5 linked regions of the Homo sapiens genome follow. The protein of the gene in region 3 interacts with the protein of the main gene of each other region in a pairwise test. Each region holds a gene or a part of one and is shown on either strand. Other genes may lie near its edges. The genes, in order: GIPC1, ZDHHC17, PABIR3, DLST and alpha-crystallin A2 chain.

What was found.
Region 1: the proteins of PABIR3 (region 3) and GIPC1 interact in binary tests that used the Homo sapiens proteins (3 or more experiments, as listed by UniProt).
Region 2: the proteins of PABIR3 (region 3) and ZDHHC17 interact in a two-hybrid assay, tested with the Homo sapiens proteins (one large-scale study listed by BioGRID and IntAct).
Region 4: the proteins of PABIR3 (region 3) and DLST interact in binary tests that used the Homo sapiens proteins (3 or more experiments, as listed by UniProt).
Region 5: the proteins of PABIR3 (region 3) and alpha-crystallin A2 chain interact in binary tests that used the Homo sapiens proteins (3 or more experiments, as listed by UniProt).

Annotation. Positions count from the first base shown.
Region 1 is NC_000019.10:14,486,114-14,489,634, reverse strand, and holds part of GIPC1 (PDZ domain-containing protein GIPC1), read left to right. Parts: intron 1-3,521. UniProt on the Homo sapiens protein: May be involved in G protein-linked signaling.
Region 2 is NC_000012.12:76,809,098-76,812,618, forward strand, and holds part of ZDHHC17 (palmitoyltransferase ZDHHC17), read left to right. Parts: coding exon 1-23; intron 24-615; coding exon 616-760; intron 761-3,521. UniProt on the Homo sapiens protein: Palmitoyltransferase that catalyzes the addition of palmitate onto various protein substrates and is involved in a variety of cellular processes.
Region 3 is NC_000023.11:134,810,231-134,813,751, reverse strand, and holds part of PABIR3 (PABIR family member 1), read right to left. Parts: exon of another isoform or gene 2,569-3,521; intron 1-2,568.
Region 4 is NC_000014.9:74,898,897-74,901,581, reverse strand, and holds part of DLST (dihydrolipoyllysine-residue succinyltransferase component of 2-oxoglutarate dehydrogenase complex, mitochondrial isoform 1 precursor), read right to left. Parts: intron 1,660-2,685; coding exon 1,586-1,659; intron 1,294-1,585; coding exon 1,210-1,293; intron 517-1,209; coding exon 349-516; intron 1-348. UniProt on the Homo sapiens protein: Dihydrolipoamide succinyltransferase (E2) component of the 2-oxoglutarate dehydrogenase complex. The 2-oxoglutarate dehydrogenase complex catalyzes the overall conversion of 2-oxoglutarate to succinyl-CoA and CO(2).
Region 5 is NC_000021.9:6,505,703-6,509,223, reverse strand, and holds part of alpha-crystallin A2 chain, read right to left. Parts: intron 2,422-3,521; exon of another isoform or gene 1,835-2,421; intron 1-1,834. UniProt on the Homo sapiens protein: Contributes to the transparency and refractive index of the lens. In its oxidized form (absence of intramolecular disulfide bond), acts as a chaperone, preventing aggregation of various proteins under a wide range of stress conditions.

The sequences.
Region 1 (3,521 bases), on a different chromosome or scaffold from region 3:
GCTGAACAGCCATTATTTATACTCATTCCAAGGCTTCTAACATGATGATACTATTTCCTCGTATTTCCACCATTCCAATATTTTTCTGTTGTCCACTAGTCGCCATCTCCACACATTCATCTATCACAAGGTTCATAAAGGGATCAAATCCCCGCAATATTCCTTGGACATGTCTGCCACCATTTAATTTCAATGAAAACTTCTTGTCCGTAAATTTTTTCAACTCAGGAGGGTGAGCTTTGCTCATGGTGTATACTCCATGGGCTCACAGATGCCTTGGAACAGAACGCACGGCTTCCCTCACGCTACCGCGGTAGGCCCAGCATCTTGTGCCTGGCGTCATCGACCTCGTTAGCCAATCGATTGTTCGAGCATGAGTTTCAATGGGGCAAACCTTATCCAAACCATAGCAGGCTGGGTGTGGTAGCTCATGCCTATAATCCCAGCACTTTGGAAGGCCAAGGCGGGAGGATTGCTTGAGCCCAGGAGTTCAGGACCAATCTGGGCAACGTAGTGAGACCCGTCTCTACAAAAAATAAAAATTAGCTGGGCATGGCTGTGAACACCTGTAGTCTCAGCTATTCAGGAGGTTGAGACAGGAGGATTGCTTGAGCCCAGGAATTTGAGGCTGTAGTGAGCTGTGATCACATCACTCCACTGCAGCCTGGACGACAGAGTGAGACCCCATTAAAAAAAAAAAATCAGGAAAACATAGCAACCTGTTACCTCCCTGCCCTCATGTTCTCACTATCCCCCCTTCACTCACTGTTCCAACCCCCCAGGCCTCCTCACTGTTCCTCAAACATGCCAATTGCATGCCCAGTTCAGGGCTTGGCTTTTCTTTCTTTTTTTTTTTTTTGTTTAGACCGAGTCTCGCTCTGTCGCCCAGGCTGGAGTGCAATGGCGTGATCTCAGCTCACTGCAACCTCAGCCTCAGGAGTAGCTGGGATTACAAGCATGCACCACTACGCCCAGCTAATTTTTGTGTTTTTAGTAGAGATGAGGTTTGCATGCACCACCATACCTGGCTAATTTTTGTATTTTTAGTAGAGACGGGGTTTCACCATGTTGGTCAGGCTGGCCTCAAACTCCTGACCTCATGATCCGCCTGCCTTGGCCTTCCAAAGTGCTGGGATTACAGGCATGAGCCACCGCGCCTGGCTAGGGCTTTTCTTTGTTTTTTTGAGATGGAGTCTCGGTTTGTCACCCAGGCTGGAGTGCAGTGGTGTGATCTCGGCTCACTGCAACCTCCGCCTCCTGCATTCAAGTGATTCTCCCACCTCAGCTTCCCGAGTAGCTGGGATCACAGGTGTGCACCACCACGCCCACCTGTGTATTGTATTTTTAGTAGAGATGGGGTTTTGCCATGTAGGCCAGGCTGGTCTCAAACTGCTGACCTCATGTGATCCGTCAACCTCAACCTCCCAAAGTGCTGGGATTACAGGCTTGAGCCACCATGCCCAGCCCCAGCTCAGGGCCTTTCTACTGGCTGTTCTCTCTACTTGGGACGTTCTTGCCCCAAATCATTGCATGAATGCTTCCTCCTGTGGTTCAGGTCTCAAGTTCAGCTTCACGTGCTCAGAGACGCCCTCACTGATCTTGTCTATAGAACTTGTCTTGCTTTGTCTCCATATCACTATTAAAAATTATATGAGGCTGGGCACAGTGGCTCATGCCTATAATCCCAGCTCGTTAGGAGTCCATGGCAGGAGGATTACTTGAGCCCAGGAGTTTGAGACCAGCCGGGACAACATAGCAAGACCCTGTCTCTAAAAAATAAAAATAAAAAAATTAGCAGGGCATGGTGGCAAGCACCTGTGGTCCCAGCTACTCAAGAGGCTGGGGCGGGAGGATCACTTGAGCCCAGGAGGGCAAGGGTGCAGTGAGCTCTGATTGCACCACTGCACCTCAGCCTTGGCAACACAGCAAGACTCTGTCAAAAAAAAAAAGGAAAATAAAGGAAAAAATTTATATTAGACATTTACACATTTCCCTGCTCCCTGTGCATTTCCTCTTCCGGACTGTCCACTTCTGGAGGTCATGTGCAGAGCCCCAGCTAGCCTATATAGCATCTGTGAGTGAATTAGAAAGACATCTCTTCGGCCGGGTGCAGTGACTCATGCCTGTAATCCCAGCACTTTGGGAGGCTGAGGCGAGCGAATCACGAGGTCAGGAGTTCGAGACCAGCCTGGCCAACGTAGTGAAACTCCGTCTCTACTAAAAACACAAAAAAAATTAGCCGGGCATGGTGGCGTGCACCTGTAGTCCCAGCTACCTGGGAGGCTGAGGCAGGAGAATTGCTGGAACCTGGGAGGCGGAGCTTGCAGTGAGCCAAGATTGCACCACTGCACTCCAGCCTGGGCAACACAGAACAGACTCTGTCTCAAAAAAAAAAAAAGAAAGAAAGAAAAAAAAGAAAAAAAGAAAGGCATCTCTTCCTCCTGGCAGACACCACACCAAGAAATATAGCTTGGCAGGCAGTGCACAGACCGAATTTCAGTCCTACTTGCCACCTTGGTCTAGTAATTTTGCACAGTACACAACTTGTGTAACTGAACATGGTGGCCCTAGTCAGGGATCTTGCTTTTTTTATTGAAGACAGTATCTAAAATGGTGCACAGAATACAGTAAGTACTAAAAAGAAAAAAAAAATTGTTTGAAGGGAGGGGAGAATGGAGAAAGAGAGAAATAAAGAAGCGGGCCGGGCGCGGTGGCTCATGCCTGTAATCCCAGCACTTCAAGAGGCTGAGGCGGGTGGATCACTTGAGGTCAGGAGTCTTCTGTAGTCACAGCTACTTGGGAGGTTGAGGCAGGTGAATCGCTTGAACCCAGGAGGCGGAGGTTGCAGTGAGCTGAGATCGCACCACTGCACTGCTGCTTGGGTGACAGAGCAAGACTCTGTCTCAAAAAAAAAAAAAAAAAGAAAGAAAGAAAGCAAGAAAGAAACAGAAAAAAAATGTATGTGGTGTAGAAAACAACCCCAAAAGTCTTAGTGGCTGAATTCAGCAAAGATTTGCTTTTTCTTCCTGCTACACTTCCATTGCGGCTCAGCAGGGGGCACCATTCACCGTAGTCATTCAGGGCCCGGCCTCATAGAGTCGCCACCATATCAAATGTGGCTCATCACCCTGCCTGGGAAAGATAGATCTCTGGAGGCTCCAGCACTTAAATGCCTCAGCCCAGAAATGTCATGTGCCACTTCCTCTCACAACCTATTTGCCAGAAATAATCATTTATCTGCCCAGTCACAAGGAGGCCAGGAAGTGCCATCCACCTGTTTGGTCCAAAGGGGGAGAGTCAGAAATTTTTTGCACACAGTGTTAGTGACTGTGGCTGAGAGGAAAATAGAAGCGTAGTCGCTTTCAGCCTCCATTTTCTCATCTGTTCAATGGGCATAATTGTAGCATAACGTGATCCCTGTGTTACAGTGTGGTGTGAGGGTTAAGGAAGGTCACAGGCCGGGCACGGTGGCCCATACCTGTCATGCCAGAGCTTTGGGAGGCCAAAAGCTCCTTGAAGCC
Region 2 (3,521 bases), on a different chromosome or scaffold from region 3:
ACTCCATTGCACTGGGCCACAAGGTTTAAATTTGCTTCTGGATTTTTTTCCTTTGGTTCCTTTATTAGTATATAAATAAACAACTTTAAAAAAATGATATACTAAAATGAATAGGAGAGCTTATTATGCCGTTAGTTAATATCATAAATATGCTGATGTTTTATTGTGAAATATTACCTGTAAAGAAGCAAAAGTTTATTGTCCAAAGTTTCCCTGGCCATGCTGATATTAATTCAGTTAGTTATAAGATTGGATTAAACTTTGGATTTCTAAACGTAATATTTTTGCAGCCTGTATATATTTACAATGAAAGAATTAGCTCATTTCTTGGGATGATTGAGATAATATTAGAATGGACATAATAGAATATAGTAATTATTTACTATATATTTAAATAAGTTATGAGTACTTCCATACATTTTCAGACTGTTAATCTAGTTAAGACTTCTAAGAACCATAAAATCCTAAATGTATTTTGACATGTATCTATTTTAAAATAACTTTTCAAAATACATACGTAATCTTCCCACCATACCTTACTTGAAAAAGCTCTTCCCAGAGGATCCTGTTTGAAATAACTTTATATATCTAAGTGTTTATTCTTTTATGTTTTAGACAAGGCCATCTATCCATGGTTGTGCAACTAATGAAATATGGTGCAGATCCTTCATTAATTGATGGAGAAGGATGTAGCTGTATTCATCTGGCTGCTCAGTTCGGACATACCTCAATTGTTGCTTATCTCATAGCAAAAGGACAGGTAAAAAAAATCTCAGTGGTATGGATTTTAATCAGATGTTCTTCATAGTTTAAATGCCTAATATTATTGGTGTTGTAACAAGCCGTTGATATTTAAATAGCACTTTCTGATGGGTGAAGAACATAAATATAGTGAGTTTGATATGGAGATATTTAATGTACCTAACATAAAAGCCAGCATGAAAATCATGAACCAGATAATGATGAAGTTGGGTTTTTTATTTCTAAGAGTAATGGAGATAAAGCTCAGAAATTAAGAGAGAAAATATAAGTATCTATTTTTTCTTTATGTATTTTGAATATATCATCTGAATTCATCCAAACTTTTTTGAACTTATTTATTGGTTATTTTATATATTAAATATCTCTTGAGAGGGATACATTTTTTAAGATCAGTTTCTGCTGTATAAGATAATGCTGCTTCTTACTTGTCAGAAAAACATCATATTTTAAGTGGTTGTTCCTGATTTTTCTTGAGTGTGCAGTGACCATAATCACATTAAATATTACCAGTTTATATAATCATGTTTTTGTAATAAACGTATTTTGTTAAAAGTAATGTCACCCAGTTTTTCTTTAGTGTGTTTTTTCTGGTTATATTTGAACATTAATTTTATAAGTAAGGATCTCATCACAAGAATAACTTTAAGATATATGTATTTAATTTGTTGCTATCAACATGTATTTATTGTTAATTTAAAATTCTATGCGGATTTAGAATTTGAATACTATTTCTTTTAATGAAGGTTTTACAGTATTTGTTGTTGGCAGTCTCAAGCAGTGGCAGTTGTGTTGTGCATTATAGTTTAGGAAAAGAGGCATAGACTGATAAAGTTAATTGCTGGAAGGGGAGGGGGGGTTATTGTCTGTTACTGTGTTAAAAAACTACTGCCAAAATCTAATGGCTTAAGAACAATACCAACCAATTAATACGTCTCACAATTTTGTGGGCTTGGCTGGATGGTTTTTCTCCTTGGCTGGTGGCTGCAGTTGTCTGGCGGCTTGACTGAGCTGGAAGATTGGCTCACATATCTTGTGACTTGATAGGAATGGCTACAAACTGCTTAACTGGGAGGCTGGGGCAGCGAGGCCTCTTTCTTTCTCTATGTAGTGTCAGAACTTCTACTTTTCAATACCAGTCCATGTGGTCTTTCCAGCAGGAGAACTAGACTTCTTACATATTGGCTTAGAGCTCCCAAAAGAACAAAAGTAGAAGCTGTTTTGCATTTTTAAGTCTTAGGTCTTGAACTGACACAGCAACGTTTTTTCTCCATTCTATCAGTTAAAGTGAGTTAACAAGGGCCATAACCACCCGGAGGGAAGGGACCACACAAGGGTGTGAATACCAAGAGGCCAGGTTTATGGGGGGTCATCTGGAGAGCAACTGCTATAGGAGATTATTCTTGTTATTCTGCAGTTTTTTTCTAGAACAAACGTTGAAGCAGTAAATGGTGCTATAGCACATCACAAGGTCTTTAGTGGCCTTCCATATTGCAGAATAAATCTACAATACACATTCACTTTTTTACTTTCAGTTTTTAACTGGGAAAGAAAGGTGGTGTACATTTTTGAGTCTTCATGGTCTTTTTTTTAACTTATTGATTTTGGAGTTTGGATTATTTCATTAATCTTTTTAACCTCTGGTATAGTATATAGGCTATAAAATTCTCAAAGGGCAGGATTTCTACCTGTCAGTGCTTTTGGTACAAAAAGGGCATGATGATGATAATGATGATGATAAATGTCTGAGAAATAGTTTTTTTTTTCCATGAGTAAATTTTTTTTCTGCACACAAAGATAATAAATGTTTATTATGAAATATTCAGGCATAATAGAATATGACTTAGAAAATGAAATCTCACCTCTCCCCTTGGCCATCTGCTGACTGAGGTTACTTCCTTTAATAATGTAGTATGTATTTTAAGAGATTTTATTCCATGTACAGATTAAGCATCTGTAATCTGAAAATCCGGAATGCTGCGAAATCCAAAACGTTTTGAGTGTCAACATGATGCCACAAGTGGAAAATTTTACCCCTGACACCTTTGCTTTCCAATATAGTTCGTTGTACACACACTTTGTTTCATGTACAAAATTATTTAAAATATTGAATAAAATTGCCTTCAGGCTGTATGTATAAGGTGTATATGAAAGATGAATGAATTCCACATTTAGATTTTGGTCCCATTCTCAAGATTTTATTACATATATGCAAATATTTCAACATAGGAAAAACATACACATATTCAAACACTTCTGGTCCCAAGCATTTTACATAAAGGATACTCAACATGTATACACTAATATATTGTAAAAGACACTCTTCCAATGTGCATTGCATCATACTGTGAGGGCCCAGAGTTTTTCTCTGTGCTAGAGCACTGTGCCGTTTAACCCCTGGATACCTTTGAGCTCCACTTCTGCCATCTCCCCATCATCACTCTGCTTTAACTGCACTAGTTTTTTTTTGCTACTTTTTCAGCAACTCTGACATGCTGTTGTCTAAGGGCCTTTTGGTTGCTGTTTCTTCTGCTGGTATATTCTTTCCTCAGATAGTCACACAGTTTCTCTCTCTCTCTTCAGTCAGATGGTTGCTCAAATTTTATTAGTTCTGATTACATAGTTCCTAATTATAAGCAGTAATAAAATTAGCATATTTTTATTTCTTCTTCCCTTTCTCTTTTATCGACTGTAGTCAATAATATTGTTTTTCTTAATGTTAACTATGTTCTGATAAATTTTTACTACATTTTTATTACTTG
Region 3 (3,521 bases):
GTCCCGCTGTATATTGCCTAGGCTGCCCTCAAACTCCTAGGCTCAACGATGCTCCTGCCTCAGCCTCTCAAGTAGCTAGGACTACAGATCCCAGCGGTGCCCGGCATCTTTTCCTTTTTATTATAACTTTTTATTTTGAAACGGTTTAAGACTCACAAGAAGTTGCAAAAAGAATACAGATGGTTCACATGTACCCTTCATCCAGGTTCCTCCAATGTGAGAAATCATCTGTAATACTTTTGTTTTAGCTGCCTATATCCAATCAACTGCCAGTATTTTAGATTTTACCTCTATACTCGCTCTCTGATAACCACCTGATTCTTGTCAGGCTCCTTGCCAAAAACCAATTCAAGGTCTTTTTCCTTTTCCACAGACTGCATAGTCTAATTGGGCTCCTCGCCTCTCTTCTTTCCCTTCTCTAGGCTAACAGACTACCAGGGGCATCTTCCTAAAGAACAGTTTGCTCACAACTTTCAGTGACTCTCTTCAGTGCCTGTCAAATTCAGTTACGTTCTTTACTATGACATTCAAAGCCATCCACGGTTTGGCTCCAGACTCTTCAATTTCAAGGACTAGTACAATTTCAAAACAAAATCTAGGCAGAAACATACAGTTGCCACCTTTTTCTTTTGCCAAGTCATTTTTTTTTAAATCCCACCATTGACCAATACCATCATTTCATTTGTAAAATGACCCTTTGGTATTAAGAAAATAAGAGAATAACAATCTCAGAGTACAGTACAGTCCTGCCCAGGAAAGATAATTAACAACTACATAATGACATCTTTAATTATGCTGTACTTAACTCTTTTAAAAGCACGGATTGGTAAAAACTTCACCTGAGATCAGCACTGATCAGCAGATGAACATCTGGGAGTCAGGGGTTCAGGCAAAGTGGACCATTCAGTTCTCTGGAACACATCTATGCTTTTCTGCCTTCAAGTCTGTTCTACATATAATACTTAAAATACTATCCCAACCATTGTTCCCCCTCTTTTCCAGGGTGTATCCTATCAATCCATGAAGGCCCATCTCAAATGCCAACTTCTTCATAAACTTTTCCTTCTCCCTCACCAGTCCCGCTGTAATTTCTCCCTTCCTTCTTTGAATTCCCCTAGCACTTTATTTAGCTCCCTACGCACTTATCTTAAGCTCCCTACGCACTTATCTTACTCTACCATATATTTAAGTCCTTCTAGTATTTATATTCCCTATTAAAGCTTATTGAGCCCTGAGATACATCTTTGCAACATCATAATTTGCATATAACAGGCAGTAACTTAATATTTTGTGAATGGAAGGTATATGGATGTATCTAATTCTACTTACTTTCCCAGTCATTTTCTTTGTGAGAATAGGAATATGTTCTGGCAGTCACTCATAAGAAAATTGGAGGGACACTAATGGGCTATTTCTTTCCATTCTTTTTTGTGTACATGTGTAGGGGGCTTAATACTTAGGGCTGACAATGATATAGTCTACCCTAAATTTGTTTGCCAATTTTAGTAAGACTATAACTGAAAGAAAGAATTCAGGCAATATATACTTCAACTGGTATGCATCATTCAACATGAATTTATAAAACCCTAGCTGATATCTGAACTAAGTGCTACTTTTAACTCGGAAAAAGCAGAAGTAGTATAACTGGATGGATGTTCAATGTTCCACATCAAATGATCAATAAACAGCTCTGTCTAAACTATAATAGATTTATGTCACTTATATTCCCAAAGCAATCATTTCTCATGGCTGCTATTCTTCCACGTTCGTAAAAGTTCAATAAACCAGAAGATGGGCAAACTTTTTCTGCGAAGGGCCAGAGAGTAAATATTTTAGGATTTGTGGGCCATACAGTATCTGTTGCAACTCCTCAGTTCTGCCACTGCAGTGGGAAAGTAGCCATAGATAACAACTAAACAAATGGGGATGGTTCCATTCCAATAAAATTTTATTTGCAAATCCAGGTGGTGGGCTGCATTTGGCTCTGGGGCAGTAATTTGCCTTTCAAATAGAATTGAGGGTCAGGAGTGGTGGCTCACGCCTGTAATCCCAGCACTTTGGGAGGCCAAGGTGGGTGGATCACAAGGTCAAGGGTTCAAGACTAGCCTGGCCAACATAGTGAAACCCATCTCTACTAAAAATACAAAAATTAGCCTGGCCAACATAGTGAAACCCGTCTCTACTAAAAATACAAAAATTAGCCTGGCGTGGTGGTGCATGCCTGTAGTCCCAGCTACTCGGAGGCTGAGGCAGGAGAATCGCTTGAGCCCAGGAGGCAGAGGTTGCAGTGAGCCGAGATTGAACCACTGCACTCCAGCCTCAAGACTCCATCTCAGGAAAAAAAAAAAAAAGAATTGAGGCAGTAACAGTTTAAATGCAGGGTCAAGGTAGAGGTTTTTAAGGTAGGGAGGCACTGGCAGGAATACAAGAACCTAATCTCTGAGTCTTTGAATAAGGGTCAGAGAAAGAGAAGAAAAAACTCCTAGCTTTAAGTATAGTTATTGACACCAGTAATAAAGTCAGCCAATTACAGAGATAAAGAGTATAAAGAACCAAGAGGTTCAAAACTTTTGACGTTGGAATTTTTATTAGTTCAAGATATACATAAAACAGTGCAGATACTTCTTTAAAACAGTAATACTGTATTAAAGAGTTGATATGAAAGAAACAAACCTAAGGAATTTAATTCTGCAAATGCTGGTGCAAGAGGGTCTTTATATAGAAGAAACATCAAGCAAAGTTCGAAAATTACTTGAAAGAGGTGCAACAATGTTTAGCAAGCTAAATATTTTCTACAACAGCACAAAACATCCCCTCAGATCATTTGGGCAAGTTCCCTGACCTCAGGCATGTCACACATCATTCCTATGTTACTTCTTTCTGAGGGACTGGAGTCTCTGAACTCTGTCCACTTTGTGGTTTCTATATCTTTAATTCCTACTAAAGAAATATGCTAGTGACTTTCACCTTTCTGAAAAGAATGCTTTACTGGCCAGGTATAGTTTAGAAAGAGGAAGTACTCAAGTATTAGAGGGCCAAGGAAGGAAAAAAAAAGGGAGAAAAGTGAGCAGTATACATATGCAAATGAGAACTGAGGTGAAAATGAATTCAACTAAGGCTCAGTGTAATCCTACTCTAAATTTTTCTTGCTTCAGAATAACTTCTCTGACTATGCCCTACATTTTCTACAACAGCACAAAATATGCCCTCAGATCATCTGGGCAAGTCCCCTAATCTCAGGGATGTCACACATCATTCCTATGTTACTTCTTTCTGACAGACTAGAGTCCCTGGACTCCGTCCACTTTGTGGTTTCTGTATCTTTAAACTCCTACTACAGAAATATGCTAGTGACCCTTATCTTTCTGTACAAATTTTACTTCATGCATCAGGATCTTAAGCTATGGAATGTAACACTGTAGCTATGCTCTAATATAAGCAAAAAACAAACAAACAAAACAAAAAAATCCTTTGCAGAACAAAGCAAGGTATGAAGGGATAACTGAGATCTCTCTGTTTCC
Region 4 (2,685 bases), on a different chromosome or scaffold from region 3:
ATTGTCATCTGTTTCCCAGGGGCAAGGGACCACGTTTCCAACTATATCCCCCACTCCATAGAAGCAAACAAGCCTCCTCAGCTCAGTGGTTCTCAAACTTGAATATGCATCAGGATCATCTGCACTTCTTCTTTAAGTCTGGGATGGGGTCTAAGAATATGCATTTCTAATAAGGTCCCAGATGATGCTGATCCAGACCACAATTTGATAATCAGTGCCTTAGCTATTAGAAACTAAGAAATGGAACTTAGGCCTGAAATTATAGTTAATGTTTTACAATTAGCATTTAGTTGGATTTCCCTTTCATCGAGACCTAGCCACTAGGACCTTAGAAGTGACGGTTCCTACCTTGCCTCCTATAGCCACTGGCCTGTCAAAGATGCCATGCATCCCCAGGATGGCAGACTGAGGGGGGTTGATAATGGGTGTTCCAAAGAGCGAGCCAAAAACGCCTCCATTGCTAATGGTGAAGGTACCGCCATCCATATCTTCAATGGCAAGTTCATTCTTTCGGGCCTAAAAACAGATTTCATAATTGAAATATCAAGCCAACCCAGTTTCCTTCACCTAAAGTCAGTCCATAATCCCAGCGCTTTGGGAGGCCGAGGCAGGAGGACTGCTTGAGGCCAGGAGTTCAAGGCCAACCTGGGCAACATAGTGAGACCCCCATCTGTATAAAAAACTTAAGAATTAGCCAGGCATGGTGGTGCACACCTGTAGTCCCAGCTACTTGGGAGGCTGAGGCAGGAGAATCGCTTGAGCCCAGGAGTGCAAGGCTGCAGTAAGCTATGACTCTACCACTCTACTCCAGCCTGGGCAACACAGCGAGACCCTGCCTCTAAAAACAAAAAAGCAAAGGAAGTCCAGAAAGCTTGTATCGAGATCGATGGCACAAGCGCTAGCTTCCGTGTGACAGTTGTTCGGCTAAGGTGTCTATGACCAGTGCTCCACCAGAGAAAAGGCACAATTTCATACAGTTGAAGACTTCAAAGATGATCTTTTCTAGCAGGTCTCATCTGATGAGATTTCAGTTACCAGAGCATGGTAAACTCCACCAGATATATAAAATACTTAGCTCTCATGGGCAACTGCTTTTCTCAGGGGCTATGCACTTGACTTTCCATGAGCACTGCTTGCTAGTGAGCCCAGCCTTCTGAAGGCTCTCTTCCCTCGCCTGCTTAGCAGCTTGTATACATCTTTCTACTTTACCTTCTCTCCCAGTTCAGTGATGGTCCGTTCAATATCTGCAAAATTCATAGCTTCCACATTCCTGATGACTGGAACCACCAGACCCTGAAGGGGGTGAAAAGCTGTTTTCAGTTGCAAATTAATAGTACCTTTTATAGTTAACAACTCCCTTGATTCAACCCATGGTATGCCCTCCCTAGAATACCTTCATTACTCAGTGTGATTAACAGAAAGTGTTAAAAGAATGCGGCATGGTTTAAAAGAAAAAAAAGGTTACTTTTACTAACTCCCTTCTAAAAATACAGAATTAAAGAAATGATTTCTCTTGTGTGATCTCCTTCACACAGATAAGGTGAGGGTCTAAGACCAACATTCCCCACCTCCTGCCCCAACATACCCGTGGGGTGGCCACTGCAACACTGATGTCAATATAATCCCTATACACCACCTCTTTGGTTGTGTCGTCAATCACTATGAGAGAGAAAATACATGTTACATACAACTCCCCAGGAAGGCCAAGACTAATGAGGTAATATGTGCATTAACAGAGTAAAAATCTGCAGAGCTTGATACAGTGTGGGCTGACCAACCACCATGAACACCACTGCATTATGCATGGCAGCTGGCATTCCACTTACTCCCATCCCAAGTATAGTATCTCCCAAGTCCCTGACTGAGCCTGGGCATAGGAGCATCCATTTCTTTGGCAGCCCTAAGAAGGGCTCAACACACTGGCTTCCATAGGATAGGTATGCACTAAACTCTCGTTAAGTAGCTCTAGTCAAGCCCTCCTTTAGCAGAGAATGACTAGGGTTAACAAATGTTCCAAAAAAGGGCAAATTAGCAAAGGAAAAGGGATATAGAGATACTACCCATTCTCTGCTTCCAACTCTCAACAAGAGGAAGAGGGGAGATCCAAGAGTAAGCGGGGTGATCTGGCTTTGAAATATGCTACCTCAAGAGATGGCAAACCAGCATCTGAAAATGTACACCTAGCAACTAATGGGAAAATAAAGGCTTGGGAATCATTTCCGCAGAAAGTCCATGTTGTATTGTTAGATAAGACATCCAGAGGAAGCATGTAATGTGAAAAAGAGGCCACGAGAACTTTTGAGAGCCGCCTACATGTGTGGGCAAGCAGAAGGGGGCCACTGAAAAAGATGAGAGCCAGTCAGGGAGGCATGAGAAGAATGGGAAAAAGAAGAGGTATACATTTGGGCAAAACAAAGATGGCCTTCTACCTCCCTAGAGCACCACTCAACAGGAGGGACTAGGGCTTCTACTTCTAGACCTTTAGGGCCCCTGACACTGCTGAGGATGGCAAAAGTAGCACTGACCCCTCTCCAATCTCCCAAGGAACAGAGAAGTGTGTCAACAGGAAAACAAAGTGCTTGTTAGGTCAACACTACAATGACGTAGGTAAGTAAAAAGGAAAGAAAATAAGCACCAGGTCCATGAGAGGCCAAGCCGAAGCTCCCAGTGAGGCCCATCGACCTA
Region 5 (3,521 bases), on a different chromosome or scaffold from region 3:
ACTCTTTATTCCAATATTACAATAATCCTCGCTCTACAATCATAACCTAGGAAAAACCAGGCCATACAGACACAGGAGCTGAGGGGACATAGTGAGAAGTGACCAGAAGACAAGCATGCGAGCCTTCTGTTATGCCCGGACAGGGCCACCAGAGGGCTCCTTGGTCTAGCGGTAACGCCAGCGTCTGGGAAGACGCCTGTTGTCAAGCGGACCATGGTCTAGCAGTAGCGTCAGTGTCAAGGAAAAACACCGGCTACTTAGCAGACCGGGAAAGGGAGTCTCCCTTTCCCCACGGGAGTTCAGAGAAGACTCTACTCCTCCATCTCTTGTGGAGGGCCTCAGGCCCACCTTCAGTTATCCGAAGGCATACCATCTCCCTGTGACGCTGTGCTTCAGTGGTCACACTCCTAGTCCGCCTTCGTGTTCCATCCTGTACACCTGGCTCTGCCTTCTAGATAGCAGTAGCAAATTAGTGAAAGTACTAAAAGTCTCTGATATGCAGAAATAATGGCGCAAGCTGTCTCTCTCTCTCCCCCTCTCTGCCTTGGCTGCCAGGCAGGGAAGGGCCCCCTGTCCAGTGGACACGTGACCCACGTGACCCTACCTATCATTGGAGATGACTCACACTCTTTACCCTGCCCCTTTTGCTTTGTATCCAATAAATAACAACGCAGCCAGACATTCGGGGCCATTACCGGTCTCCGCATCTTGGTGTTAGTGGTCCCCCAGGCCCACCTGTCTTTCCTTTTATCTCTTTGTCTTGTGTCTTTATTTCTACAATCTCTCGTCTCTGCACATGGGGAGAAAAACCCACCGATCCTGTGGGGCTGGTCCCTACACCTAGTGAAGACGAGGTTGCCAGGAAAAGTATTTCCACCGAAGGCAAGGTCTGTGATGTAAACTGTAAGACAGTGTCTTCAGCCAATGTCTTCCCCATCTTCAGTTTCTAGCAGTTTGGGTGCAGGGAGGGAGACACCCTTACAAATGGAGATTTCCTTCATATATATAAATTTTTTTTACAAAGAGTTTCAAAATAGCCAGCTAAATGCTAGAAAGCCATATTTTGGATATCAAAGTTACACAAGGGTCTGCATTAGTTAGGGTTCTCCAGAGGGGCAGAACTAACAGAATAGACATATATATGAAAGGGAGTATATTAGGGAGAACTAGTTCACACCATCACAGGGTGAAGTCCCATGATACACCGTCTGCAAGCTGCAGAAGAAGGAAGCCAGGAGTGGCTCAGTCGGAGTCCAAAAGCCTCAAAAGTAGGGAAGCCAACAGTGCAGGCTTCAATCTGTGGCTGAAGGCCCGAGAGTCCCAAGCAAACCACTGGCTTAAGTCCAAGAGTCCAAAGGCCAAAGAACCTGGAGTCTGATGTCCAAGGGCAGGGGGAACGGAGGAGGCATCCAGCACAGGAGAAAGATGAAAGTGAAACTGCCTCTGCAAAAATTACAACTGAGGAAATGATGACAGTGAAAGAGATCAGACCTACCTGACTCCATCTTGCTTCTAACCTTTAGGCTGTCTTTGTTCATGCCTGGGCACAGGCCAACTAACCTTGGGAAGGAATTTAGCTTATAGTTTGACTCTGAAACAAAATTGATAATAGCCATTTCCCAGAAAGATCCCCTTCTTGCCTAGGAACCAGTCTGCCTTTGTAGGAGTAACAAATTAGCTACAAGATTAGAAATTTTAAGGCCCAAGGTGGCTGCCTTCACGTTAGTACCCGTGTGAAGTCGACAGGGACGGTTCCTGTTGTCTTCTTGAAGGCCACATCTGGTCCTCATTCTTGGGCTTATTTGGTGTGCTGTTGAAGGGGCAGACTAGAGAAATGGCAGGGAGCCTCTTATGTAGGGCAGGTAGGCGCCTGTGGGACTAGGTGTGGCATGCAGAAGCTTCTTTCTTGGTATTCCTAGATTGATTGGTATAAGGCTCCTACCCCCCAAAGTAGTTGATCCTTGGAACGAAAGGATGGCCATGTTCAGAGTGTATGACAACATCAGGATCCTGGGAAACTTTGAAAAGCACCCCAAAAGCTGATCAGGGACCCCATATGGCTTCGAGATTGGAAGGGGAATGAATTGCAACGCTGTATGCTAAAGAAGAAAATGGTTGGAAACAGAATGTTTGCTGATGAGCTGCACAACCTCAATAAACGCATCAGCTGTCTCTACAAACACTTTAACTGACATGGGAAATATCGATAGAAGAGAAAGCTGAGAACTTCAGAAAAGGCTCATCTGTCACCCTGGAGAAGGGAAGCTGTACTTTTCCTTATGAGGAAACGGCTTTGTATGCTCTCTGTAATAAAATGGGGCTTCTTTGAAAAAAAAAAAAAGAAATTTTGATTTAAAGGTCATCCAGCCTCTGGCTGTCCAAACCTCCCGAAATTGCTCCTGGGGATAACATCACCATTGTAATCCGAAGATCAGTGCTTGAGGTATTTATTCTGCAAGACCCTGTACTCTATGGATCAGCTGATACCACACAGACCGGCTATCTGGCTCAGCCAGTTCTGCCATTGTACCCAGGAACAGAAGACAGCAAGGAAACCTCACTTTGACCTCCCTGTGATTCCATCTCCAGCCAGATCAATCAGCACTCCTACTTCCTGAGCCGCCAAATTATCTTTAAAAACTCTGATCTGCAAATTCTTGGGATGTCTAATTTGAGTAATAATAAAACTCCAGTCGCCCGCACAGCTAGCTCTGTGTAAATTACTCGTTCTGCATTGCAATTCCCCTGTCCTGATAAATCCGCTCCATCTAGGCAGCCGGCTAGGTGAACTCACTGGGTGGCTACAAAAGCCAGAAGACTCAGCAAGCCAGCTTCTCCCACCCTCCTCCACCTGCTTTGTTCCAGCCACACTGTCAGCCAATCGGATGGTGCCCACCCACACTGAGGGTGGGTCTTCCTCTCTCAGTCCACTGACTCCAATGTCAATTTCCTCTGGCAACACCCTCACAACACACCCAAGAACAATACTTTACCATCCTTCAATCCAATCAGGTTGACAGCTAATATTAACCATCACAGGGTCTTTTCAACTTAGCTTGTTTCTCTATTAGATTACTGACTTCAGGGTGAAGCCCTTTAATGAATAGGGCAAAGGAGGCATTCTCTATGCCTGGAATCAGCATGGATAGCTCTGAAAAGAAGCAAGCCTACTTTACCTGCTTGAGGGCCTACTTTTAACTTTTTATAAACACTTTATCCAACTTATTACATATAAAAAAAGAAAAAACTTGGCCGGGTGCGGTGGCTCATGTCTGTAATCCCAGCACTTTGGGAGGCCAAGGTGGGTGGATCACCTGAGATCAGGAGTTCAAGACCAGCCTGGCCAACATGGTGAAACTTTGTCTCTACTAAAAATACAAAATTAGCCAGGTGTGGTGGTGCATGCATGTAATCCCAGCTACTTGGGAGGCTGAGGCAGGAGGACCGCTTGAACCTGGCAGGCCGAAGTTGCAGTGAGCCGAGATCAGGCCATCCCTTACACTCCAGCCTGGGCAATGAGA